Linked DNA regions of Homo sapiens. The protein of the gene in region 1 purifies or fractionates together with the protein of each later gene. This does not show direct contact. Each region holds a gene or a part of one and is shown in the gene's direction. Other genes may lie near its edges.

The links.
Region 2: the proteins of GLMP (region 1) and PARL purify together in Homo sapiens (affinity purification with mass spectrometry; 2 studies listed by BioGRID and IntAct, with this or other methods). This does not show direct contact.
Region 3: the proteins of GLMP (region 1) and TUBB3 purify together in Homo sapiens (affinity purification with mass spectrometry; 2 studies listed by BioGRID and IntAct, with this or other methods). This does not show direct contact.
Region 4: the proteins of GLMP (region 1) and FDXR purify together in Homo sapiens (affinity purification with mass spectrometry; 2 studies listed by BioGRID and IntAct, with this or other methods). This does not show direct contact.
Region 5: the proteins of GLMP (region 1) and LARS2 purify together in Homo sapiens (affinity purification with mass spectrometry; 2 studies listed by BioGRID and IntAct, with this or other methods). This does not show direct contact.
Region 6: the proteins of GLMP (region 1) and SLC25A20 purify together in Homo sapiens (affinity purification with mass spectrometry; 2 studies listed by BioGRID and IntAct, with this or other methods). This does not show direct contact.
Region 7: the proteins of GLMP (region 1) and TRUB2 purify together in Homo sapiens (affinity purification with mass spectrometry; 2 studies listed by BioGRID and IntAct, with this or other methods). This does not show direct contact.

Annotation. Positions count from the first base shown.
Region 1 is NC_000001.11:156,292,880-156,297,051, reverse strand, and holds the start of GLMP (glycosylated lysosomal membrane protein isoform 1 precursor), read left to right. Parts: upstream 1-1,372; 5' UTR 1,373-1,406; coding exon 1,407-1,526; exon of another isoform or gene 1,527-1,755; intron 1,756-2,035; coding exon 2,036-2,293; exon of another isoform or gene 2,294-2,376; intron 2,377-2,486; coding exon 2,487-2,687; intron 2,688-2,815; coding exon 2,816-3,034; intron 3,035-3,341; exon of another isoform or gene 3,342-3,434; intron 3,435-3,475; coding exon 3,476-3,732; intron 3,733-3,842; coding exon 3,843-4,008; coding exon of another isoform or gene 4,009-4,040; 3' UTR 4,041-4,172. UniProt on the Homo sapiens protein: Required to protect lysosomal transporter MFSD1 from lysosomal proteolysis and for MFSD1 lysosomal localization.
Region 2 is NC_000003.12:183,874,881-183,878,380, reverse strand, and holds part of PARL (presenilin-associated rhomboid-like protein, mitochondrial isoform 1 precursor), read left to right. Parts: intron 1-93; exon of another isoform or gene 94-229; intron 230-3,500. UniProt on the Homo sapiens protein: Required for the control of apoptosis during postnatal growth. Essential for proteolytic processing of an antiapoptotic form of OPA1 which prevents the release of mitochondrial cytochrome c in response to intrinsic apoptotic signals.
Region 3 is NC_000016.10:89,929,842-89,933,341, forward strand, and holds part of TUBB3 (tubulin beta-3 chain), read left to right. Parts: intron 1-2,729; coding exon 2,730-2,838; intron 2,839-3,500. UniProt on the Homo sapiens protein: Tubulin is the major constituent of microtubules, protein filaments consisting of alpha- and beta-tubulin heterodimers. Microtubules grow by the addition of GTP-tubulin dimers to the microtubule end, where a stabilizing cap forms.
Region 4 is NC_000017.11:74,870,195-74,874,429, reverse strand, and holds the start of FDXR (NADPH:adrenodoxin oxidoreductase, mitochondrial isoform 1 precursor), read left to right. Parts: upstream 1-1,435; 5' UTR 1,436-1,485; coding exon 1,486-1,564; exon of another isoform or gene 1,565-1,661; intron 1,662-2,113; coding exon of another isoform or gene 2,114-2,232; intron 2,233-2,296; coding exon 2,297-2,394; intron 2,395-4,235. UniProt on the Homo sapiens protein: Serves as the first electron transfer protein in all the mitochondrial P450 systems including cholesterol side chain cleavage in all steroidogenic tissues, steroid 11-beta hydroxylation in the adrenal cortex, 25-OH-vitamin D3-24 hydroxylation in the kidney, and sterol C-27 hydroxylation in the liver.
Region 5 is NC_000003.12:45,521,076-45,524,575, forward strand, and holds part of LARS2 (leucine--tRNA ligase, mitochondrial), read left to right. Parts: intron 1-2,921; coding exon 2,922-3,033; intron 3,034-3,500.
Region 6 is NC_000003.12:48,885,383-48,888,882, reverse strand, and holds part of SLC25A20 (mitochondrial carnitine/acylcarnitine carrier protein), read left to right. Parts: intron 1-3,500. UniProt on the Homo sapiens protein: Mediates the electroneutral exchange of acylcarnitines (O-acyl-(R)-carnitine or L-acylcarnitine) of different acyl chain lengths (ranging from O-acetyl-(R)-carnitine to long-chain O-acyl-(R)-carnitines) with free carnitine ((R)-carnitine or L-carnitine) across the mitochondrial inner membrane, via a ping-pong mechanism.
Region 7 is NC_000009.12:128,312,448-128,315,947, reverse strand, and holds part of TRUB2 (pseudouridylate synthase TRUB2, mitochondrial), read left to right. Parts: exon of another isoform or gene 1-122; coding exon of another isoform or gene 123-126; exon of another isoform or gene 127-319; coding exon 320-381; exon of another isoform or gene 382-524; intron 525-1,700; exon of another isoform or gene 1,701-1,850; intron 1,851-2,042; exon of another isoform or gene 2,043-2,058; coding exon 2,059-2,140; exon of another isoform or gene 2,141-2,397; intron 2,398-3,500. UniProt on the Homo sapiens protein: Minor enzyme contributing to the isomerization of uridine to pseudouridine (pseudouridylation) of specific mitochondrial mRNAs (mt-mRNAs) such as COXI and COXIII mt-mRNAs.

The DNA of each region.
Region 1 (4,172 bases):
ATAAATAAATAAAATAAAATCAGAGTGAAGTGAAGAAAACAAACACTCCAAAGTTTTCTACAACCCTTTTAAATTTCACCAAATTTTAGCCCGTTCTTTCTTTCTTTTTTTTTGAGATAGAGTTTTGCCCCTTGTTGCTCAGGCTGGAGTGCAATGTCGCAATCTCGGCTCACTGCAACCTCTGCCTCTTAGGTTCAAGCGATTCTCCTGCCTCAGCCTCCCAAATAGCTAGGATTACAGGCGCCTGCCACCATACCTGGCTAATTTTTGTATTTTTAGTAGAGACGGGGTTTCACCATGTTGGTCAGGCTGGTCTCTAACTCCTGACCTTAAGTGATCCACTCACCAAGGCCTCTCAGAGTGTTGGGATTACAGGCGTAAGCCACTGTGCCCGGCCTAGCCCCTTCTTTCTCTCTCTCTCTCTCTCTCTCTCTCTCTCTCTCTATATATATATATATATATATATATATATTTTTTTTTTTTTTTTTTTTTTTTTTTTTTTGAGACGGAGTCTCGCTCTTGTCGCCCAGGCTGGAGTGCAGTGGCACAATCTTGGCTCACTGCAACCTCTACTACCCGGATTCAAGTGATTCTCCTGCCTCAGCCTCCCGAGTAGCTGGGGTTACAGGCGCCTGCCACCGGGATTACAGGGCCCTGCCACCGTGCCCAGTGAATTTTTTGTATTTTTAGTAGAGACGGGCTTTCACCATCTTGGCCAGGCTGGTCTTGAACTCCTGACCTTGTGATCCACCTGCCTCAGCCTCCCAAAGTGCTGGGATTACAGGTGTGAGCCACCGTGCCCGGCCTTTTCTTTCAACATTTAACAAATAAGTTGGCTTTTTTGGAAGTATGTTGTTGTCATTTAGTGACACATCTCTAAATATTTACAATTTTTGTTGAAATGTTAGGCAGGGAAGAAGAACCACATTGTTCCACAGGGAAGAAGAACCACAGAGTTTCATGTGCTGGAGTAGAAAGAAGGTGTATGAGTTCCACAATGGGACAGGGTTGGGAACTTAAGGCAATGTACTGGAGTAGTTCCCTGTTGGGTTTATTTTCTTTAACCTGTCTTTGTGTCAAAATGAGATTTCACGTTCCTCTTAAAACATGCCGTTTGAATACTGTGTTTTTGGCATTGTCCAAGGAAAACTGAAAACTTGTAGCATGAATGTTTTTTTTTTCACTTAAAATCTTGTGACCATATTAAATTGTATTACTTGTAAGAGACTGACGTTTCCTGTTTTAAGATAGAATACAAAGCTGTTCTTTAATACATTAAATGGTGCTGACGAAAGGAAATTTTTTTAAAAAGCAAATAGTTTGGCGGCTCCGCCCTTGAAAGGGATCAGCTGAACGCGAGTCATGTGACCCTCTGGCACCTCTTCCGTCGGCTGAATTGCGGCCGTATGCGCGGCTCTGTGGAGTGCACCTGGGGTTGGGGGCACTGTGCCCCCAGCCCCCTGCTCCTTTGGACTCTACTTCTGTTTGCAGCCCCATTTGGCCTGCTGGGGGAGAAGACCCGCCAGGTGAGGGCCCTGGGGCTACAGCGATAGAAGTTTCAGGAAACGCTACCCTTGCAGGGTGGCTGGAACCGGGCATCCAGGGGCTAGGGGTGGAGGGTGGCTGCCAAGAGGAGGGTTCTTCAACCTGGAGGGTGTGGGAGATGGTCATGGGTCATGGGACGGGATTGTGGAGTAGGGCAAATGTGAGGGTGATGTCTGGACCCCGACTCAGCCCTGGGTGACCCAGGTCCAGGCAAGTGTTGAATGTTTTCTTCTTCGCAGCCCTGTGCCCTGACCCGCCCACCAGGGTCAGGGGAGTCCTGGCTGTACCCTCTACCCTACCCCTTTTCATCCTGTCCCCACTGCCCCTTACCCCAGGGTTCCCTCAGCTCCCGCACACATTCCTCTTGTCTAGTCCCCAAAATCCCATCCTTTGTCCAGCACTTTCCAAGCCCCCCTCCCCTCAAGCTTCTCTTTTGCCTGTGTCTCTCCTTGGTCCTGTTCCCTCAACCCTCCACTACTCCATGTTCCAGGTGTCTCTGGAGGTCATCCCTAACTGGCTGGGCCCCCTGCAGAACCTGCTTCATATACGGGCAGTGGGCACCAATTCCACACTGCACTATGTGTGGAGCAGCCTGGGGCCTCTGGCAGTGGTAATGGTGGCCACCAACACCCCCCACAGCACCCTGAGCGTCAACTGGAGCCTCCTGCTATCCCCTGAGCCCGATGGGGGCCTGATGGTGCTCCCTAAGGACAGCATTCAGTTTTCTTCTGCCCTTGTTTTTACCAGGGTGAGGAGGTTGGGAGAGAACCAAGGAGAAGAGTGCAGAGGAGAGAGTTCATCCCAATTAGAGGGTGGAACTAAAGACTGGGGGTGGGTGAAATAGACTCAGATATGAAAGCCTTGGTAGGGGGTGAGTGGGAGGTGTGGTCTCGGGAGAAAAACTGAGGCAAGCCCAGTTCCACCCTACCCCCACCCTCCAGCTGCTTGAGTTTGACAGCACCAACGTGTCCGATACGGCAGCAAAGCCTTTGGGAAGACCATATCCTCCATACTCCTTGGCCGATTTCTCTTGGAACAACATCACTGATTCATTGGATCCTGCCACCCTGAGTGCCACATTTCAAGGCCACCCCATGAACGACCCTACCAGGACTTTTGCCAATGGCAGCCTGGCCTTCAGGGTAAGGCGTGAGAAATCGGAAAGAGCTCAAAAAGGCTGATTTGTGAGGGTGGGATTTAATGATGGAGGTGGCCCTTAAGCACAGGCATCCAGCTATTTCCCACACCTCCCATGCTTCTTCCTTCCTAGGTCCAGGCCTTTTCCAGGTCCAGCCGACCAGCCCAACCCCCTCGCCTCCTGCACACAGCAGACACCTGTCAGCTAGAGGTGGCCCTGATTGGAGCCTCTCCCCGGGGAAACCGTTCCCTGTTTGGGCTGGAGGTAGCCACATTGGGCCAGGGCCCTGACTGCCCCTCAATGCAGGAGCAGCACTCCATCGACGATGAATATGCACCGGCCGTCTTCCAGGTCAGGCTTCCTGGAGAGAGGCAGATGGGTGAGGAATGTAGGTGGGACACCATTGGGACCTAAAACTCATTCAACCATTTGCCATTTAGCAACACTTTCTTTGGGTCGTTTAAGAGCTAGGCACTGTGCTAATGAATCTGACCCAGTCTCTGCCCTCAGTGGAGACAGACAGAAAGTGCAATATGACTTACACTCTGGCAGATGGAGATCTGCAAGGGGGCTAGGGGCCAAGAGGAGGGCTGAGTCCAGACTTGGAGGTTTGGAAAACAACTCAGTCCTCACCCAGTCGAACTCCCCATTTTTACAGAGGAGGGATTGAGGCCCTGCCTAGGACTCAGGACTCCTGCTGCTAGTCACAGAATAAGGCTGGGAGTGGCAAGGAAAAGAGGGTCGGGCACAGGTTGGTCCTCTTTACCCTCCCTTGTTTGCCTTTCTTCCCAGTTGGACCAGCTACTGTGGGGCTCCCTCCCATCAGGCTTTGCACAGTGGCGACCAGTGGCTTACTCCCAGAAGCCGGGGGGCCGAGAATCAGCCCTGCCCTGCCAAGCTTCCCCTCTTCATCCTGCCTTAGCATACTCTCTTCCCCAGTCACCCATTGTCCGAGCCTTCTTTGGGTCCCAGAATAACTTCTGTGCCTTCAATCTGACGTTCGGGGCTTCCACAGGCCCTGGCTATTGGGACCAACACTACCTCAGCTGGTGAGAGCCAGGGTTTGGGCCGGGGACTTGGGGAGTTGAAGTGGACAAAGGCTGAGCCTCCCAGCCTTTCCTCCTAAGCCCGCTTACCTCTCTCTCTCTGCTTGCTCTAGGTCGATGCTCCTGGGTGTGGGCTTCCCTCCAGTGGACGGCTTGTCCCCACTAGTCCTGGGCATCATGGCAGTGGCCCTGGGTGCCCCAGGGCTCATGCTGCTAGGGGGCGGCTTGGTTCTGCTGCTGCACCACAAGAAGTACTCAGAGTACCAGTCCATAAATTAAGGCCCGCTCTCTGGAGGGAAGGACATTACTGAACCTGTCTTGCTGTGCCTCGAAACTCTGGAGGTTGGAGCATCAAGTTCCAGCCGGCCCCTTCACTCCCCCATCTTGCTTTTCTGTGGAACCTCAGAGGCCAGCCTCGACTTCCTGGAGACCCCCAGGTGGGG
Region 2 (3,500 bases), on another chromosome or scaffold:
TCCCTATTCCTTGCAGCTGGGTTGGACTTGCGGCTTAGTTTGATCGGTAGCATGTGGTGGAAGTAATATTGTGCAAGGTCCAGAGTCGGCCTCAGAAGACCTTGCAGCTTTTGCCTTTGCCCACTTGGAACACTCCCTCTGTCATGGTAGAAGCCCCCGCTAGACTACTGAACACCAAGGACTGGGCGGTGAAAGAGCAAGCAGACAACAACCAGCACTAAGGCTCCAGGTACGAGTGAAGCCATCTGAGACTCTCCAGCTCTGATTAAGCAGTCAAGAGTACTGGCTGGGGCTGGGCGCGGTGGCTCACGCCTGTAATCCCAGCACTTTGGGAGACCAAGGCGGGTGGATCACTTGAGCTCAGGAGTTCGAGACCGGCCTGACCAATATGATGAAACCCCATCTCTACTAAAAATACAAAAATTAGCCAGGTGTGCTGGTGTGTGCCTGGAGTCCCAGCTACTCAGGAGGCTGAGACAGGAGAATTGCTTGTACCTGGGAGGTGGAGATTGCAGTGAGCCGAGATCATGCCACTGCGCTCCAGCCTGGGTGACACTGTCTCAAAAAAAAAAAAAAGTAATAAATTATGGTTTTAAGCCAGTGCATTTTAGAGTGGTTTGTTAAGATGTAGATACCTTAATTTTAAAATGCTTTATTACTAAAAAATTCTAATAATCATCTGAGCCTGCAGTGAGTCATAATCTTTTTGCTGGTGGAGGGTCTTGCCTCTGTTGATGGCTGTGGACTGATCAGAGTGGCGGTTACTGAAGGTTGGGGTAGCGGTGGCAATTTCTTAAAATAAGACAACATGAAGTTCGCCACGTTGATTGACTCCTCCTTTCACAAAAGATTTCTCAGTAGCATGTGATGCTGTCTGATAGCATTTTATCCACAGTAGAACTTCTTTCAGAGTAGGAGTAAATCCTCTCAAACCGTGCTGCTGCTTTATCAGCTAGGTTTATGTAATCTAAATCCTTTGTTGTCATTTCAACAGTGTCCACAGTGTCTTCACCAGGAGTAGATTCCATCTCAAGAAACCACTTCCTTTGCTCATCCATAAGAAACAACTTCTCATCTGTTCAAGTTTGATCATGAGATTGCAGCAATTCAATCACATCTTCAGGCTCCACTTCTAATTCTAGTTCTCTTGCTCTTTCTTTTTTTTCGAGATGGAGTTTCACTCCTGTCACCCAGACTGAAGTGCAATGGCACGATCTTGGCTCACTGCAACCTCTGCCTCCTTAGTTCAAGCGATTCTCCTGCCTCAGCCTCCTGAGTAGCTGGGATTACAGGCACCCACCACCATGCCCAGTTAATTTTTTTGAATTTTTAATAAAGATGAGGTTTCACCATGTTGGCCAGGCTGGTCTCGAACTCCTGACCTCAGGTGATCCGCCCGCCTCGGCCTCCCAGGGTACTGGGATTACAGGCATGAGCCACTGCACCCAGCCTCTAGTTCTCTTTCTATTTCTACCGCATCTGCAGTTACTTCCTCCACTCAAGTCTTGAGCCCCTCAAAGTCATACTTGAGTGTTGTAATCAACTTCTTCTAAACTGTTAATGTTGGTATTTTGACCTCCTCTCATGAATCATGAGTGTTCCCGATGACATCTAGAATGGTAGATCCTTTCCAGAAGCTTTTCAGTTTACCTTGCCCAGATCCATCAGAAAAATCACTCTGTGGCTATTGCCTTACAAAATATATTTCTTTTTCTTTCTTTCTTTCTTTCTTTTTCTTTTTCTTTTTTTTTTTTTTTTTTTTTTTTTTTTACAAAATGTATTTCTTAGGGGAATAAAAAAAGAAAATATATTTCTTAAATAATAAGACTTAAACGTTGAAATTCCTGCTTGATGTATGTGGTTGCAGAATGGACATTGTGTTAGCAGGCATGAAAACAATATTCATCTTCTTGTACCTGTGCATCTGAGCTCTTGGGTGACCAGATACATTGTCGATGAACAGTAGTATTTTGAAAGGAATCTTTTTTTCTCAGCATTTGGTCGCAACATTGGGCTTAAAATATTTGGTAAACCGTTTGGGCACAGTGGATTGCGCCTATAATACCAGCACTGTGGGAGGCCAACACGGGCGGATCGCCTGAGATCAGGAGTTCAAGACCACCCTGGCCAACACGGTGAAACCCCATCTCTACTAAAAACACAAAAATTAGCCGGACATGATGGCAGGCGCCTGTGATCCCAGCTGCTCGGAGGGTTGAGGCAGGAGAACTGCTTGAACCTGGGAGGCGGAGGTTGTAGTGAGCTGAGATAGTGCCACTGTACTTCCAGCCTGGGCGACAGAGTGAGACTCCATCTCAAAAAGTAAAAATAAACAAATAAAAAATATTCCATAAACGATGCTGTAAACAGGAGTGCTGTAATCTAGGCTTTGTTGTTCGATTTGTAGAGCACGGGCAGAGTAGTTTACCATCATTCTTAAGGGTTCTAGGATTCTCAGAATGGTAAATGAGCATTGGCTTCAACTTAGTCACCAACAGCATTAGTGCCTAATGAAGTCAGCCTGTCCTTTGAAGCTTTGAAGCCAGGCATTGCCTCCTCACCTGTAGCTATGAAAGTCTTAGATGGCATCTTCTTCCAATAGAAGGCTGTTTTGTCTGCTTTGCAAATCTGTTTAGTGTAGCCACCTTCATCTTAGGATCTTCTTGATAAGTTGCTGCAGTTTCTACATCCACACTTGCTGCTTCAAGTTGTACTTGTGTGTTATAGAGACAGCTTGTTTCCTTAAACCTCATGAACCAACCTCTGCTAGCTTCAGACTTTTTTCCTGCAGCTTCCTCAATTCTTTCAGCCTTCATAGAATTGAAGGAGTTAGTCTTGCTCTAGATTGGCTGTGGCTTAAGGGAATGTTGTGGCTGATTTGATCTTCTATTCATGTAATTTTTTCCATGTTGGCAATAAGGCTGTTTTGCTTTCTTACTCTATTTTTTTTTTTTTTTTTTTTTTTGGAGACAGAGTCTTGCTCTGTCGCCCAGGCTGGAGTGCAGTGGCACAATCTCAGCTCACTGCAGCCTCCATCTCCCAGGTTCAAGCGATTCTCCTGCCTCAACCTCCCCAGTGGCTGGGATTACAGTCGCCCGCCACCACGCCCAGGTAATTCTTGTATTTTTAGTAGAGATGGAGTTTCACATTGTTGGCCAGGCTGGTCTCGAACTCCTGACCTCAGTTGATCCTCTCGTCTTGGTCTCCCAAAGTTCTAGGATTACAGATGGGAGCCACCACACCCAGCCTACTATTTTTCTCTTCTCAGGAGTAGCACTTAAAATTTCCTTCAGTAGTTTTGCTGTTGTTGATACAGAGTCTAGTTCTGTCATCCAGGTTGGAGTGCAGCAATGCATTTGTAGCTCACTGCAACCTTGACCTCCTGGGCTCAAGTGATCTTCCTGCCTCAGCCTCCCAAGTAGCTAGTACTATAGGCGCAAGCCACCACACTTGGCTAATTTTTAAATTTTTTATAGAGACAGGATCTCACTATGGTGCCC
Region 3 (3,500 bases), on another chromosome or scaffold:
AGGTGCTCGCCACCACGCCTGGCTAATTTTTGTATTTTTAGTAGAGACAGGGTTTTGCCATGTTGGCCAGGCTGGTCTTGAACTCCTGACCTCAGATGATCCACTGCCTCAGCCTCCCAAAGTACTGGGATTACAGGCGTGAGCCACCGTGCCTGGCACAAGCAGTTTTCTCCCCTTCCTTCCTTCCTTCCTTCCTTCCTTCCTTCCTTCCTTCCTTCCTCTCTCTCTCTCTTTCCTTTCTTTCTTCCTTCATTCCTTCCTTCCTTCCTTCCTTCCTTTCTTTCTGACAGTCTCGCACTATTGCCCAGGCTGGAGTGCAGTGGCGCGATCTCGACTCACCACAACCTCTGCCTCCTGGGTTCAAGCAATTCTCCTGCCTCAGCCTCTCGAGTAGCTGGGAGTACAGGTGCGCGCCACCATGCCTGGCTAATTTTTGTATTTTTGGGAGAGATGGAGTTTCACTATGTTGGCCAGGCTGGTCTCGAACTCCTGACCTCGTGACCCACCCGCCTCTGCCTCCCAAAGTGCAGGGATTATGGGGGTGAGCCACCGTGCCCAGCTATGAGTGGTTTTGTTTCTATTTATTTATTATTATTCTATGAGACAGAGTCTCACTCTGTCGCCCACGCTGGAGTACAGTGGTGCAATCTTGGCTTACTGCAACCTCCGTCTCCTGGGTTCAAGCAATTCTTCTGCCTCAGCTTCCGGAGTAGCTGGAACGTGTGAGCCACCACCCCTGGCTAATTTTTGTATTTTTAGTAGAGACAGGCTGGTCTCGAACTCCTGACTTCCGGTGATCTGCCCACCTCAGCCTCCCAAATTGTTGGTATTACAGGCGTGAGCCACCGCACCTGGCCTCTATTTATTTATTTATTTTGAGATGGGGTCTTGATATGAATTCCTAGACTCATGCTTCTCATGCTTGCTACCACCCAGTCCTGCCTCCTGCACAGCAGTTTCCACTAAAGTCACCCCTTTACGAGAGGCATCTTTTTTTTTTTTTTGAGATGGTGTCTCACTCTGTCGCCCAGGCTGGAGTGCAATGGCATGATCTCAGCTCACTGCAAGCTCCACCTCCTGGGTTCAAGTGATTCTCCTGCTTCAGCCTCCCGAGTAGCTGGGACTACAGGCACCCGCCACCATTCCCGGCTAATTTTTTGTATCTTTAGTAGAGACGGGGTTTCACCATGTTAGCCAGGATGGTCTCGATCTCCTGACTTCGTGATCCACCCGCCTCGGCCTCCCAAAGTGTTGGGATTACAGGCATGAGCCACTGTACCTGGCCTACTAGAGGCATCTTAAAACACATCTCCTGTGTCTCCATTCCAAAGCGCATCTTTGTCTACACTCCTGGGGTCCTCCCACGTCAGCCTCCCAAAGTGCTGGGATTACAGTCATGAGCCACTGTGCCCGGCCCCACCAAATTGTTTTCTAACCTGCTTTTTTCTTGAGGAATCTTCTGCAGCACATGACTCACATGTAGAGCCCCTTGTTTCTTGAGGCCTTCATACCCGTCAGCTCATCTAAAAGTCACTCCTGAGGAGTAAGGGCAAGGGGCATTGGGAGAGGTCAGGCAGCCCTGGGAAGCCTCCCAGCGTGTGTCCCAGGAGGCCTGCTGCCTGCAGACACTGCTCCCAGACGCAGCGGCCTCGGCCATCAGAGCGTGTCCCACGATGAGGTGGCAACTTCCCTGAAGGGCTTGCTCTCACCCAGGGGTGTGGTTCTCCGTGTGCACACAGATAGATAGTTCTACGTTTGCCATATACCATTTATATGCCTCACACAGATTAACCCACTTTCATTTCAAAAAGACCTCCTGTCATCGTGCCCATTGTACAGATGAGGACACTGAGACACGGAATCCTAGTGACCTGTGCAAGGTCACACAGCTGGGAAGGGTGAGGGAAGCGTCTGTGAACCCAGCAGGCCCAGCCCCTGAGTCTAGGCTCCGCTCGGCAGCTGTCATGGGAGCAGAGTCCGAGAAGCACTGCAGGCACCTGCTCTAGGGGGAGAGAGGTGGAGGTGGCAGGTAGAGAGAGGACGACCCCTGGGAGCTGAGACGATGCCAGCCTCACACGGACAGGCTGGGTGACCTCAGGCAAGTCGCTTCCCATTTGGGACCCCAAGGACCCTTCTGCAGACCCAGCTGGGGGTCCCCGATGAGACTGGCTCTCAGAGTCCCTGTGAGTCCCGTCAGCTGAGGCCAGTAATGTCCTGGCACCATCACTGGACATGGTTTGCTCTCCCATGGAGGGGCAGGTGTAGCAGCCAAAAGCGATCCTGAGCTCTGGGCCTCTGAACCCTGCTCTGCCAGCTACTGTGGGTGTCTCTACCCGCTCTGTGTCTCAGTTCCCTTTCCTGAAAAGAGGGGATAGTAAAAACTAACCCTCAAGGTGTTTATTACCAATGCCCTTCATGGAGGAATCCGCTGCTCCAGGCCCTTGCCAGCAGCTGCACAGCTGGGCCTGGGGACCTGGGTGTGGGTCTGTTGAACCTTGGCCCACCCTGGGGCTGTGGTCGGCCTGGACGTGTAGGTGTGGAGGTGCATATTTATTATGGCAATTTTCTGACAGGTAACAGAGTGTGGGGCTCTCTTCTGAATGGGGCTCGTGGAGGCCGTGGGTCAAAAGCCCTAATTTTGTAGTGAGGGCTAAAAGGCTTCACAAGGGAAAGGGCCTGGCTGGGGCTATGGGCCGGTGCCGACCCCCCCTCTCCCACTTTGTTTGCAGTTCTGGGAAGTCATCAGTGATGAGCATGGCATCGACCCCAGCGGCAACTACGTGGGCGACTCGGACTTGCAGCTGGAGCGGATCAGCGTCTACTACAACGAGGCCTCTTGTGAGTGCCTGCCCCAGCCTCCCTATCCCAGCCCTGGACTGACCAGGTCTCAGCGTCTGACTGACCAGGTCTCAGCACCTGGACTCACCAGCTCTCAGCATCTCTGTCCTCCCATGGGTTAGGTTGGCTGAGATGCCAGCAGGCGTAACTGGATGTCAGGCATCCAGACGCACAGAACAGACAATAAATCACAGTCACAAAAGTGAGAGCCAAACATATTAGTGCCATGAGGGCCTGTGCGTGTCCAGGGGCACAGACAGGGATGGGGCAGGCCAGAGACTTTGGAGGCCATAAGAGGGCCTAGAGAAGGGGTCACCTGGAGGGCTTAGTCAGGGGCTCTTTAGCAACTGGTGTGAAGTGATTTCCATATCAAAGTGGTGATACACCCACCTGCCCACATGGACATGTGATTTAAAATTTTATTTAATTTAATAGAGACAGTCTCGATATGTTGCCCAGGCTGGTCTCGAACTCCTGGACTCAAGCGATCCACCTGCCTTGGCCTCCCAAAGTGTTGGGAGTGCAGACACGAGCCCCTGCATCTGGTGGACGTCTGACTGAATCCTGCCTGTCCTGCTCCGTCCTGTCCTGCTCCGTCCTTAAACACAGTGAGGCTTAAGGGTGAAGAAAGTTGCTGAAGCTTGCCTTTGGTCCAGGACTCT
Region 4 (4,235 bases), on another chromosome or scaffold:
CAAAACCAAAAACAAAAACCCCAAAACCTCCAAAAAAACAAAAACAGTAAAAGCCATTCTTGTTGGTCATCCAAAACATGCTGGTGGACAGTATTTGGCCTGCAAGCTATAGTTTGCCTACTCCTGGTCTAGTGGGACAGGCATAAAACACAGTGACCTATTAGAAAGCAGACAGCATTTACTTACCAGTGGGAGGGAGGGGAAGTGACCAGTAAGGGCACAGAGGACTCCTGGGATACTGGCCATGTTTTATTTCTTGATCTGGGTGGTGGTTATATGGTTACACCTTGTGATATATTGTCAAGTTGTACACTCATGATTTGTGCACTTTTCTGTATGTTATTATTGAATTTAAAATCTCATTAAAAACGACAACCAGTGTAGTAAGTCATGATGGGATAAGGTCAGATGCTGTGGAATGAGAGGCCTTTAACTCCTTGGAACTTGGGAGGGGACGGGTCAGAGAAAAGGCTTCTCCAAGGAAGTAATATTTGACAAGAGGGCCCATGGGGAAAAGGAAGAGGGGTTAGGCTTATTGGGTCAGCTGTGACTACGGATCCTGTCCTTATTTTTAAAAACATTTTGATCATAGACTTTTTGCATTACTTTTGACCTTTTAAAACGTTGCAGTATTATATTTATCTTGATTACTGAGTGTTTTGGAGCCCCCTTAAATTCTGAACCCGAGGGGAGTACCTCAACTCTGGTCCCGGCTCGGCTGCACGGGGGTCGGACGCTCTGTCCTTAGTACCATACGTAAGCCACTGCCCCGCCCCGCTTTTCTTCACCTATGTAATGGGAAAGGAGGTGAGGTGGGACGAGCTTTCCAGGGTTTAATATTCTCCCTGGCCCGGCAAAGACGGGGATTTGAGGGGTTACATCGGCACAACACCCGGGGTCGAAGAAGGAGGCTGCTGGGCTCCGGGAAGGAGCTCCCTCGCCCCAGACTTCCGCACTCTGGTTATTTCCCAACGGCGGGAAGGCTCGCTTGGAGCCGGACTCGTGATTGGCTAGGACGAAGTCACGTGGGAGGATTCGCAATCAAATGGCAAGGGCGTCTGCGTCATCAGTGAGCGACGAGAGCCTCCCGAGAGGGGCGCGGCTAAGTAAAATAAGCTCCTTTCTTAGTGGCTGTTTCCTTGGGGAGGGACTGAAACAGCGATGGGGATTCGCTCTCTTCCAACCCTAGGCTTCCGGGATTTGGAGGGAAGGTGAGGCCTGGGGAGAAATGTATTAAATCGCGTATACCCCGGATGCTCCGAGGGGCGGGGCTTCGACGGTGGGGCGTAGTTAAGGGCGGGTCTCTCTTTTGGGGGCGGGATTCTCTCGGGAGTCGGGGTGGAGCCGCAAGGCTCCGCTTTCCCGGAGCGCAGGGGGCGGGGTTTGGGGCGGGGCCTCGCTTGTGGGCGGGCCCGGGCAGGAGCGGGCTTGCCCTGCGGAGCAGTAGCTAGGAACAGATCCACTTGCAGGTTGCTGCTCCCAGCCATGGCTTCGCGCTGCTGGCGCTGGTGGGGCTGGTCGGCGTGGCCTCGGACCCGGCTGCCTCCCGCCGGGAGCACCCCGAGTAGGAGCAGGGCGCCTTTGGGGCTGGATGGGAGCGCGGGGAGGCCTGCGAGCGCTGAGTAGGGGTCGGAGCAGAGCTGGGGCAGGGCTGGAGAAGGGTGAGACTGAAGGGGTGTCTTCCTGCTGGCGAGATCCCGGTGGTGTACGGGGGTGGGCGGAGATCTGTGCGTGAGATGTGAGGCTTCTAGGGTTAGAGACGGAGGTCAACAAAGGTGAAAAGGAGAGACTTTGAGATCTACAGGTGTGAGACGGGGTGAATGGAGGATGATACGGAGGTCTGTGGGGCGAGAGGAAAGTCTGAGTCGAAACAGGGATCTGTAGGAATAAGACGGGTCTATATGGGCAATATAGCGTTTTGTGGAGAGAGAGAGGGGTTAGAGGAGGGACACCGTGGGGAGACCCACGGGGGCGAGATTGGGATGATATGGAGGCCGTTGGAAGGATGTGGGATTCTAGCCGATTGGATAGGGAATGAAGTGTTGTTGGGCAGGCCATTGGCAGTGGTGTAGTAGGTTCATGGGTGAGATGTGGGCTCTGGATGAACCCACAGCCTTTGGGGGTTCAGATGAAGTAAGAGACCCTGCAAATGCCAAAGCCTTGAGGAACAAGAGAAGGAGGATGCAGGTGAGGGTGAAGCTTGGGAAGTTCCAGCTTCTGTTGGATATTCAGGTTGGTTTGGGACTGGGGAGAGAAGTTAATTTTGACCTTTTCCCTCTCCTCTGCCTGGCCCCAGGCTTCTGCCACCATTTCTCCACACAGGAGAAGACCCCCCAGATCTGTGTGGTGGGCAGTGGCCCAGCTGGCTTCTACACGGCCCAACACCTGCTAAAGGTAAGCCACTTACTCATAGTCCATCATTCACCTGCTGCTCCAGTCCTAAGGGCAAGCCTCACCCGCTTTGGGTTTTAAGAGCACTCCTGGTTGCCTTATGGGGAAGGGGCTCCCAGCCATCTGGCCTGGACACTTCCCACTTGCTTCCTCACCTACACCTGAGGCTCCCCTCCCCTCCCGTCCTCAGTGTGACAGGGGTGTAAAACGCACATTGGTGGTGAGTGGTCAGTGGCAGGTGGTCAGCTTTGCCTCCCTGGCCAAGCACTCCAGGGGGCTTATGTAGACCTGCAAAATGACTTTGTCCTCCTTCATCTTCCCTCCTCTCTCGTCTATCTTCACTCTATCCCAAACATCCTACATCTCGAGGCTACCCACCTCCTCCGCTTTCTGTAACTTTACCTGCCTTGCCATGCCCTCCTCACCCATAGCTCCAGTCCTCCGTGCCATTCTGTTCTTTCAGCCTGCCCTCTGCCCCTCCCCCTTCCCCTGTGAAGGCCAGGATCTCAAGGCTTTCAGTGTCTGCCTCGGCAGGAAGGGCCCCAAGCCAAGGCTACAGGTTCTACTTGAGACTCCACATCAGACTTTGGGACAGAGTAGAGAGGGGATACCCAGGTTAACTGAGACGTGAGACAGTTGCCTAGCTTTGGAGAGGCTTGGAGTGTCCGTGGAGAGACAAGAGAAAGGATGAATATCTTAATTATACACACACACACAGATGCTTGAAATGTAGGGTGACCAACTGGCCTGGACTGCCCAGGACAAGGGGCTTCAGCGCTAAGCTGGAAGTTCTTGGGAAACTGGGATGAGTTGATCACTCTGCTGAAAAGTGACCCGTGCATGCTTCCCAGGCAACACGGGTGAAAGAGCTAATTACAATAATGTGGGCAGCGTGAGCCGAGGCAGGTGGGGTCAATCAGAAACTGTTTCCTGGGCCGGAAGCCCAGGTGGCTCATGTCTGTAATCCCAGCACTTTGGGAGGCCAAGGCAGGTGGATCACTTGAAGTCAGGAGTTTGAGACCAGCCTGGCCAACGTGGTGAAACCCCATCTCTACTAAAAATAGAAAAATCAGCCACGTGTGGTGGCACAGGTCTGTAGTCCCAGGTACTTGGGAGGCTGAGTCGGGAGGATCGCTTGAACCCAGGAGGTGGAGGTAGCACTGAGCCAAGATCAAATCACTGTACTCCAGCCTGGGCGACAGAGTGAGACCCTGTCTCAAAAAAAAAAAAAAAAAAAAAAAGAGAGACAGTGCATTTGAGCTGCCTTGAAGCAGACCAAGGGCTTTGGTGAGGGCCTCCCACATGTGGGGAGTCATCCTGGAATGCAAGGCCTTGGGCACGCTGCCATGTGGGAGGGAGGACAGCCTGGGCTCTGGGATGGAGATCAGGGAGCACATGGGGGCTGGAGAGGCCCTGAAGGGCTTTGTATAAGGGACAGTTTTTTTTTAGCTGATCCTGACATTTTGGAAGGGAGGAGAGTAAGCTTTCCAGGCAGTGTTCTTTTTTTTTTTTTTTTTTTTTTGAGATGGAGTCTGGCTCTGTCGCCCAGGCTGGAGTGCAGTGGCACAGTCTCAGCTCACTTCAACCTCCATCTCCCAAGTTCAAGCGATTCTCCTGCCTCAGCCTCCTGAGTAACTGGGATTACAGGCGCACTCCACCACATGCAGCTAATTTTTGTATTTTTGGTTGAGACAGGGTTTCACCATGTTGATCAGGCTGGTTTTGAACTCCTGACCTCAAGTGATCTGCCCACCTCGGCCTCCCAAAGTCCTGGGATTACAGGCGTGAGCCCCCGCGCCCGGCCAGGCAGTGTTCTTAGCACGACTGTATTCAGCTGGCAGACA
Region 5 (3,500 bases), on another chromosome or scaffold:
AGGCGGATCACGAGGTCAGGAGATCAAGACCATCCTGGCTAACACAGTGAAACCCCATCTCTACTAAAAAATACAAAAAATTAGCCAGGCGTGGTGGCAGGCACCAGTAGTCCCAGCTACTCAGGAGGCTGAGGCAGGAGAATGGTGTGAACCCAGGTGGCGGAGCATGCAGTGAGCCAAGATCACGCCACTGCACTTCAGCCTGGGCGACAAAGCAAGACTCCGCCTCAAAAACAAAGTAAAAAAATAAAATAATTAGCCTGGCATGGTGGCATACAGCTGTAGCTGTAGCTACTCGGGAAGCTGAGGCGAGAGGATCGCTTGAACCCATCCTGGGCAACAGAGCAGGAGACTCTGTCTCTAAAAATAAAATTAAAAGGGTAATTTTTAAAAAGTAAAATAAAGATAAAAAAGAACAATGGAAGAAATTTCAAATTTGACTACATAAAACTTGACATTTTCAGTATGTTAAAAAAATTTATAACATGTCAGACAGAAGGTTAATATCCTTGTAAAGCACTCTTACATATTAATATGAAAATACCTAACCAAAAATGGTCAAAGCATATGAAAAGATAATAACTCATAGAAAATGTTATAGAAATAGCCAATACATTTGTGGAGAAAAAAAAGTCTGCCTCTCTAATTATCATGAAAGGCAAATTTAAAACAAGATGCTTTTGTTTTTGTTTTTGTTTTTTTTTAAATACCTGTCAAATTTGCTGAGAATACTTTAACGTAACTATTCAGGGCCAGGCACAGTGGCTCATGCCTGTAATTCCAGCACTTTGGGAGGCCGAGGCAGCAGGATCGATTGAGCTCAGGAGTTTGAGACCAGCCTGGGCAACATAACAAGACTTCATCTGTAAAAAATTTAAAAATTAGCCAAGTGTGGTGGCATGCACCTGTAGTTCTAGCTACTCAGGAGGCTGAGGCGGGAGGATCCCTTGAGCCCAGGAATTTGAGGTTGCAGTGAGCTGTTTGGTGCCACTGTACTCTAGCCTGGGTGACAAAGCGAGACTCTCTCTCAAAAAAATAAAAATAAAGGCATAATTATTCCCCATGCTATTGCAAAGATGGCAGAATAGACTTTTACACGCCAGTGATAGGTGTGGTTGGTGTAACCTTGCCAGGAAGCACTTCGGCTATCAGGTTGATTGTGTTATATCCTCTGATCCAGGAGTGTTCACTGCAGATAATTTATAATCACAGAGACTCGGAACCCCAGTGTCCTCTGATGGGGGAATTGTGAAATGACTTATGTCATATCAATAAGAAAGGAATGTGCCACCACCATTAACCTCATGTCTTGAAGAATACTTAATATCAGAAACTGTTTATGATATAATGTTAAGTAAAAACACATGACACAAGGCCAGGCACAGTGGCTCACGCCTGTAATCCCAGCACTGCGGGAGGTCAAGGCAGATAGATCGCTTGAGGTCAGGAGTTCAACACCAACCTGCTCAACATGGTGAAACCCTGTCTCTACTAAAAATACAAAAAATCAGCCAGGGTGTGGTGGTGCACACCTGTGCACCTGTAGTCCCAGGCACTCAGGAGGCTGAGGCAGGAGGATTGCTTAAACCTGTAGGCAGAGGTTGCAGTGAGCTGAGATCACACCACTGCACTCCAGCCTGGGCAACAGAGAGAGACTCTGTCTCAAAAAAAAAAGATACAAAAGTGTTCATATGAGCTGGGTGCAGTGGTTCACACATGTAATCCTAGCATTTTGGGAGGCCAGGGCAGGCAGATGGCTTGAGCCCAGGATTTCGAGACCAGCCTGAGCAATATAGTGAGATACCCCATCTCTATTTAAAAAAAAAATTAATTTTTAAAATTAAAAAAAAGGAAGTGTTCATATGGCAAGAATACCAATCCTGAAAATGTTACATGTGTAATAAGCATTTATATACACATTTTTGCATTTTTGGAGACAAGGATAAAATATACCTTTTTTTCTAGGTTGTATAATTATGAGTAGTTTTTCATTTCCTGTATATTCTGTGCTGAGTGTGTGTTAGTTTTTTAATCAGAAAAAATAAAGCAAGACACTGAAATGAAACTGTAATGAATTTCTGTCTTTCCATTCCGGAATTTGGGAAGTCCTTAATAATAACACACAGAGCTAAACACAACTATGTTTGCCGGAATTGACCAAAGGTATTTCAGAGAATAGGGGTCCCTAAGTAGGGTATAGAGGCCCCCCTGCCCTAGGTGTTTCACAGTTTAACACCTTTGAGCAGGTCTCAGTGCATTTCTCTGTGGACCTGCAGCACAGAGGAAACCTAGCAGAGTGGGTAAGAGTTTGGCTACAGTGTGCCTGGGGGCAGATTGCCCTCCCTTGCTGATCCTTAGCTGCTTCATCTGTCCAATGGGGTAAGAATACCACCCTCAAAGAGTGGTGAGGACTAAATAAGTTAACATCATGTATTTGTTGTTGCTGCTGCTGGAGCTTTTTTTTTTTTTTAAAGATAGGGTCTCACTGTTGCCCAAGCTTCAGTGCAGTGGTGCAGTCATAGCTCACTGCAGCCTTGACCTCCTGGTCTTAAGTGATCCTCCCACTTCAGCCTCCTAAGTAACTGGGACTATAGGTGTGTGCAACTGTGCCTGGCTAATTTTTTTTTATTTTTTAATTTTTCATAGAGATGAGGTCTCACTATAGTGCCCAGGCTGGTCTCAAATTCTTGGCCTCCCAAAGTAGTGGGAGTATAAGTGTCAGCTACCACACCTGGCTTGCTGTAGTTTATCTCAGTGCTATCATTAAGTAGGGGAAGTTCATTGTCCCAAGCAGAAATGGATGGCAAAGGGGGTTTCTTCCTACCAGCTTGTGTCTCTGGACTTCAGATACATTAATGGTCTTTCTTACCCGTGCTTATTTTTACACCTCAGTCTTCTTACTTTTTTTTCCTCTTCCTTAGCAAGCCTCTCAGAGCGTCATTCTCCACAGCCCCGAGTTTGAGGATGCTTTGTGTGCCCTGATGGTAATGGCTGCTCCACTGGCCCCTCATGTAACCTCAGAGATCTGGGCAGGTACGTGGCAGAGTCCTTTTTTGACCAGTTACTACTAACTAGAATTTGTCGAAGCCTCTTTTTGAACATCATTCGGGACTCAGATGTCCTCAGATATAGGGTCCAACATTTGGCATCTATACTCAGCAACCTCTCTGTCCTGTACTCTGAATGGTAGTACTTCATCCACATGGTCACCCCTACCAAAAGGAAAGACACTTCCCTGCTTTGAATAATGTGCCCAGACTAATGTGGGTGTTGATGTTACCATCTTAATCCCTTCTCGTGACTCAGCCCCCCAGTATCCACATATTATGACCTGCGTGGTCTTTTTAAGATAAAAACTCATGTTTAATACCACTGTACAGGTGGAAATTAAGTTATAGGTCTAAACTTACACTGTAATTCAGCACTCTTCACCAATTATTCCTAATCTAGGCATCAAAGCAGGCCTGACTGCCTGCTTGAATTTCAGCCCCTAGAACCCT
Region 6 (3,500 bases), on another chromosome or scaffold:
GATCTCCTGACCTCATGATCCACCCGCCTCAGCCTCCCGAAGTGCTGGGATTACAGGCATGAGCCACCACGCCTGGCCCTAAAATATAACTTTCATATAAACACTCTATTATAGTCTCTAAATTTATAGCCTTGATTAAATATACAGAAACTAAGTAGTAGTCATCCAGATAAAAAGGGAGTGATAGTAAGTGATGGACTCAGCCTTGGCGAAGTTGTTCCCAGGATTCCTGTAGGACTTGGGTGCAGAAGGAAGATCTTTTTAAACTATTTATTTATTTATTTATTTATTTATTTATTTATTTATTTATTTTGAGACAAGAGTCTTGTTCAGTTGCCCAGGCTGGAGTGCAGTGGCGCAATCTCGGTCACTGCAAACTCTGCCTCCCGGGTTCAAGTGATTCTCCTGCCTCAGCCTCCCGAGTAGCTGGGATTGCAGGCACCTGCCACCATGCCCGGCTAATTTTTGTGTTTTTAGTAGAAATGGGGTTTTACCATGTTGGCCAAGCTGGTCTCAAACTCCTGACTTTGTGATCTGCCCGCCTCAGCCTCCCAAAGTGCTGGGATTACAGGCATGAGCCACTGCATCTGGCTTAGGAAGATCTTGAGGCAGTGCCTGCCCAACCGTCCTTGAGTGAGGTGGTGCTACCCTTCTTTTTTTTTTTTTTTTTTTTTTCGAGATGGAGTCTTGTTCTGCCACTCAGACTGGAGTGCAGTGGTCCGATCTTGGCTCACTGCAACCTCCACCTCCTGGGTTCAAGTGATTCTCCTGCCTCAGCCTCCCAAGTAGCTGGGATTACAGGCACCTGCCACAATGCCCAGCTCATTTTTATAATTTTAGTACAGATGGGTTTTGCCATGTTGGCCAGCTGGTTTTAATCTCCTGAGCTCAGGTGATCTGCCTGCCTCAGCCTCCCAAAGCGCTGGAATTACAGATATGAGCCACCACGCCTGGCCTGCCCTTTCTTCTTCTTCTTTTTTTTTATGGAGTCTCATTCTGTCACCCAGGTTGGAGTGCAGTGGCACGATCTCAGCCCACTGCAACCTCCGCCTCCCGGGTTCAAGCAATTCTCCCTGCCTCAGCCTCCCGAGTAGCTGGGACTACAAGCGTCTGCCACCATGCCCGACTAATTTTTGTATTTTTAGTAGAGATGGGGTTTCACCATATTGGCCAGGCCGGTCTTGAACTCCTGACTTCGTGATCTGCCCTCCTTGGCCTCCCAAAGTGCTGGAATTACAGGCGTGAGCCATGGCACCTGGCCTTGTTCTTTCTTCTTTAAGCTCCTCCTCCTTACATCTCTAGTGCCCAGGGTAGAGTCTGAGCAGTGTCTGATGGAGGTTCTAGGCTTCAGGTCCACTTAGAGTCCTCTGCCCTTACAGAAGGAAGGTAGGCTTACCTGCCTCTTGGTCATTAGACGTTATTGAACACCTGCCTAGGGGTGGGCAATGTGCTGGGTCCTGGAGTTGTGGTGAGAATGTCTTGTATAAACCCAAGTCTTTGAAGAGTTGAATAGGCTTCCTTAGTCCATATTTGTGCATGTCCTGGTTTTTCCTGTGCCAGATTTGAGCTTTCTGCTTTCTGGAGCTGCCAGGCAGGGGTCTGTAGGTTGTGAAACATGGAACTGGGTTGGCCATTCTAGTGGAAGGAAGACTAGACAAGTTGTTCAGGAGGAATGGGCTTGACCTCTCAGGACCTGGTCATCCTTTTAGCTCATGTAGGGAGCTGTGGGAATGGCTTTGAATGGACTTTGTCATATGCTACTTTTGCAGATCCTCCTCAGATCTCTGTCCTTTTCCCATTTACTGCCTCTGTACTTTGTTCTTGGAGTCCACCTGCAGCCTGCAGCAGTTTAGGCTTTTGCAGGAATTAGGAGGAATGCTGACAGGTACAGTTGTGCCACTTTGATTCTGAAAAGAAAGTTTGGATACCCAGGGTCTGCAGTGAGGCAGGTTCTTCAGCCTGGGTCTGTGGAGCCCTGCCAGTGTGCAGCCTCACCCTGATTCTCCTGCTACTCTCTATAAGGAGAAACTTTAAAATTTTTTTGTATTTGTTTTAAAAAAATGGTTTTGAGATGGGGTCTTGCTATTTTACCCAGGCTGGTCTTGAACTCCTGGGCTCAAGTGATCCTCCCGTCTCAGCCTCCTGCGTACCTGAGATTATAGGCCCTGATACAGGCACTTCATTTGTTACTGAGAAGCTTATGACAAAGTAACAAAGTGATATTTATCTCTTTCCTTCATTCTCCAGAGGCAACTACTTTCAATTTTTTCAGTTGTTTATGCTGTTTCCACCTATCTACATAATATACATTTACTATTATATTTTATTTATTTATTTTTATTATTATTATTTTTTGTTTGAGACGGAGTTTTACTCTTGTTGCCCAGGCTGGAGTGCAATGGCGCGATCTCGGCTCACTGCAACCTCCGCCTCCCGGTTCAAGCGATCCTCCTGCCTCAGCCTCCTGAGTAGCTGGGATTACAGGCATGTGCCACCACGCCTGGCTAATTTTGTATTTTTAGTAGAAACAGGGTTTCTCCATGTTGGTCAGGCTGGTCTCGAACTCCCGACCTCAGGTGATCCGCCCGCCTTGGCCTCTGAAAGTGCTGGGATTACAGGCATGAGCCACCGCACCCGGCCATTACTATTATATTTTATACATTTTTATATTTTTTAGCTACCTATTTGTGGTACATTATTTTATATTTTAGCTCTTAGTCTCCCTATCCCCTCCTTCTGCCCTGCCCATCCATATGATTTTATCACCCTTTGTGGTTTAATCCAATTCACCATTTTCATGATTACAACTTTATATATATTTTTTCTCTTAAGTAAGTATGAAGTATGATGTGCATTCCATTCCTTGTGTAACTTCTTGTTTCCCTTGGGATTGGGTTAATAATTGTGTTAAATCTTTTGTTTTGTTTGTCTTTGAATCACTGTCTCTGTCATTCTGTACCCTAAATGCTCTGTAGTGTACCTTTCTGTTTGGTTTGCTACACACTGCCTAAGGAGTTATTTTCTGTTGTTCTAGTGTGTATTGTTTTGTTCTGTTTTTGTTTTAGTTTAGTTTTGTTTTTTTGAGATGGAATTTTGCTGTGTTGCCAGGCTGGAGTACAGTGGCACAATCTCGGCTCACTGCAACCTTTGCCTCCCAGGTTCAAGCGATTCTCATGCCTCAGCTCCTGAGTAGCTGGGATTACAGGCATGCACCACCACACCCAGCTAATTTTTGTATTTTTAGTAGAGGCGGGGTTTCACCATGTTGGCCATGATGGTCTTGATCTCCTACCTTGTGATCCGCCTGCCTTGGCCTCCCAAAGTGCTGGAATTACAGGCATGAGCTACTGCACCCAGCCTTGTTCTGTTTTTCTTGGAAACATCGCTTTTGGAGTCCTCTACTGCCCTGTGGACTGACTGCTTCCCAGGTCCACTGCACCCTGTGCCATCCTAGAAACGCATTTCATCTCTCTTGGACTGGCCCCCTGGTCTCCCAGGTC
Region 7 (3,500 bases), on another chromosome or scaffold:
CTGATTTGAGTGCAGGTTTGTGTGACTAGGCCAGGGATCTCTTCCTCTCAGGTGTCAGAATCCTGTGGAGAGCTTGGCAGGGATCCTAGGCCCCCTCCAACCATGAGTCAGATTCAGTGCATATGGGTAAGGCCCAGCAATCTGCATGTGATATATACCCAGAGGGGTGCACCTGCCCCCTGTAGAAGATCTTTTTGCCTTCTTGTTGCCTTTGGCAGCATCAGAAAAGGGAGTATTCTGATGGTGGGGGTAGGGGTGGGGATACTTAGGGGAATGGGAAGGGGGTCCCAGGTGTGAGATGACGCTGGCTGCTTTTCAGTGCTCGGCGTGGGACATGGATGCAGGCTCCTCACCGATATGTACAATGCTCATCTTACCAAGGTACGAGGGTCTGGGGACAGCCTGCTTCTCCCTTGGTCCTTTCCTGGGGGTCACCAGCAGGATTCTGAAGCTTAGAGGATTCCGTGGGGGAACACCCAAGCCATAAGCAAGCATTTTTTTGATGATCGTGTGCTGTGCAGGGGCTGTAATAATAATAACAATAATAACTACCAGTGTTAGTGTATGCCGACTACTCTGTGCTGAGCACTGTACGTGGATTCCTTTAGGGAAGCCTCACAGCCTCCCTGTAAAGTGGAATCTGTTGTTAGCCACATTTCACAGATGAGAGAACTGAGGCTCAGAGAGGAGATGTTACTTACCTAGGTCATGTAGTTGTTAGGGCTTTAAGAGCTGGGATTTGAACCTAGGTCTCTCCAACACCAGAGCTTGATCATGATGCCATTCCCTATTCTGTCCCAAGACTGAGAGGTAGATGTCAGCATCCTACCCACAGGGAGCTTACCATCCAGAGGTGGGGTCGGGGCTATGGAGTCTGATACCACAAAGTATGTACGCAGGTGCCACGTTATGGGGCCCATGTTTTTAGTGGTTAAGGGCACAAATTCTGGAGCCAAATGGCTTCAGTTTGAACCCCAGCTTCTACCACTCTGACAGCTGTGTGTCCTTGGGTAGATTACCTAATTAATATCTGTGTGCCTCAGTTTCCTCATCTGTAAAATGGGAATGAGGGCCAGGTGTGGTGACTCATACCTGTAATCCCAGTACTTTGGGAGGCTGAGGCAGGAGGATTGCTTGAGCCCAGGAATTTGAGACCAGTCTGGGCAACATAGCAAGACTCCATCTCTATTTACAAAATTTTTTTAAATTATAAAAATTTTAAAAATTGTGGCCGGGCTCAGTGGCTCCTGCCACTTTGGGAGGCTGAGGTGGGTGGGTCACTTGAGGCCAGGAGTTCAAGACCAGCCTGGACAACATGGTGAAAACCTGTCTCTACTAAAAATACAAAAAAATTAGCCAGGCTGGTGGCGCATGCCTGTCCTCCCAGCTACTCGACGATCCACCCGCCTCTGTCTCCCAAAGTGCTGGGATTATACGTGTGAGTCACTGTATCCAGCCAATCATTACTTATCTGTGGCAGATGGGGTTAGCTGCACAGATTCAGAGGAGGGGGAGTTTTTACAAGCAGGGATGAGCAAGGGCCTGATCTGGGCCATGGAATCTCATTCTATTTAGAGGCGTGGAGAGAAGCCTACAGGGCATGCTAGAAGGGGCTCGGGGTGATAAATTGCCGAGTTAGGTTGGAGAGGAGAAACATGGAGGCCTGGGGTGGCCACAGGGTGGCTGTCAGCGGTCAGTACCTTTGGAGGCTGCCAGTGCTGGTTGTCATGGAAACCAGCCAGCAGTCTTGTAGGAAGCCTGCTGACTGGGAGCCAGGTACCATGTCCTGCTGAATCCAGGCAGCAGTACTGTGAGACTGGCCCTGTTACTGTCCCCAGGTGACAGGAGAGCTTGAATACAAAGAGAGCAAGAGCTGCTGAAGGCCACATGACAGAGCTGGTGCCCTTCCTCCTGGGGCTGTGGAGCAGCTGGGCAGGGGCTGGGCACATGAGCTTCCTGAGGGAGACCTGAGGACCCCCCACCCCCAGCTTCTGGGGCAGGGGCTACTAGGGCTTAGAATGGGGTCACTGACGGATCTTTACCTCCCTGTCCTTGAAGGATTACACAGTGCGTGGCCTCCTGGGCAAAGCTACAGATGACTTCCGTGAGGACGGGAGGCTGGTAGAGAAGACAACCTATGGTGAGAACCGGAAGTGGCTGCCGCTGCCTCCCTCCGCATTTGCTTTCCCTGAGTCCTCTCCCCGCCCTAGGCCACGCTGGCCCCTTCTCAGTTCCACTGCACACACTAGGCTTGGGCTGAGGCTTTGGCCACGGGATCTGTGCTCCAGGAGCATCCTCTACTCCCCTGCTTGCCTAGCTCAAATGTAACGTCACTTCCAAAGACTCTAGTTTCTCTCCATCTCGTCAGTCTTTGACCTTTTCCTTTTCTTTTCTTTTTTTTTTTTTTTTTTTGAGACGGAGTCTCGCTCTGTCGCCCAGGCTGGAGTGCAGTGGCACGATCTCAGCTCGCTGCAAGCACCACCTCCCGGGTTCACGCCATTCTCCTGCCTCAGCCTCCCTAGTAGCTGGGACTACAGGCGCCCGCCACCACGCCCGGCTTTTTTTTTTTTGTATTTTTAGTAGAGATGGGAGACGGGGTTTCACCATGTTAGCCAAGATGGTCTGGATCTCCTGACCTCATGATCCGCCCTCCTTGGCCTCCCAAAGTGCTGGGATTACAGGCATGAGCCACCGCGCCCAGCCTTTCCTTTTCTTTTCTTTTTTTTTTTTTGAAACGATGTCTCGCTCTGTCGCCCAGGCTGGAGTGCAGTGGCGCGATCTTGGCTTACTGCAACCTCCACCTCCCAGGTTCAAGCAATTCTCCTGCCTCAGCCTTCGGAGTAGCTGAGATTACAGGTGCACACCACCACACCCAGCTAATGTTTTGTATTTTTAGTAGAAATTGGGTTTCACCCTGTTGGCCAGTCTGGTCTGGAACTCCTGACCTCAGGTATTCTGCCCACCTCGGCCTCCCAAAGTGCTGGGATTACAGGTGTGAGTCACCACGCCTGGCTACTGTTCTAAATTTTAAAAAGAGGCCGGGCGCAGTGGCTCACGCCTGTAATCCCAGCACTTTGGGAGGTCGAGATGGGTGGATCACAAGGTCAGGAGTTTGAGACCAGCCTGGCTGATATGGTAAAACCCGTCTCTAGTAAAAATACAAAAATTAGCCGGGCGTGGTGGCAGGCACCTGTAGTCCCAGCTACTCAGGAGGCTGAGGCAGGAGAATCGCTTGAACCTGGGAGGCGGAGGTTGCAGTGAGCTGAGATTGCACCACTGCACTCCAGCCTGGCAACAAAGCGAGACTCCGTCTCAAAAAAAAAAAAAAAAAATAATAATAATACAAAAAATTAGCCGGGCATGGTAGTGCACGCCTATAATCCCAGGTACTCGGGAGGCTGAGGCAGGAGAATCGTTTGAACCTAGGAGGTGAAGTTTGCAGTTTGCTGAGATCTCACCACTGCACTCCAGCCTGGGCAACAGAGCGAGATTCCATCTCA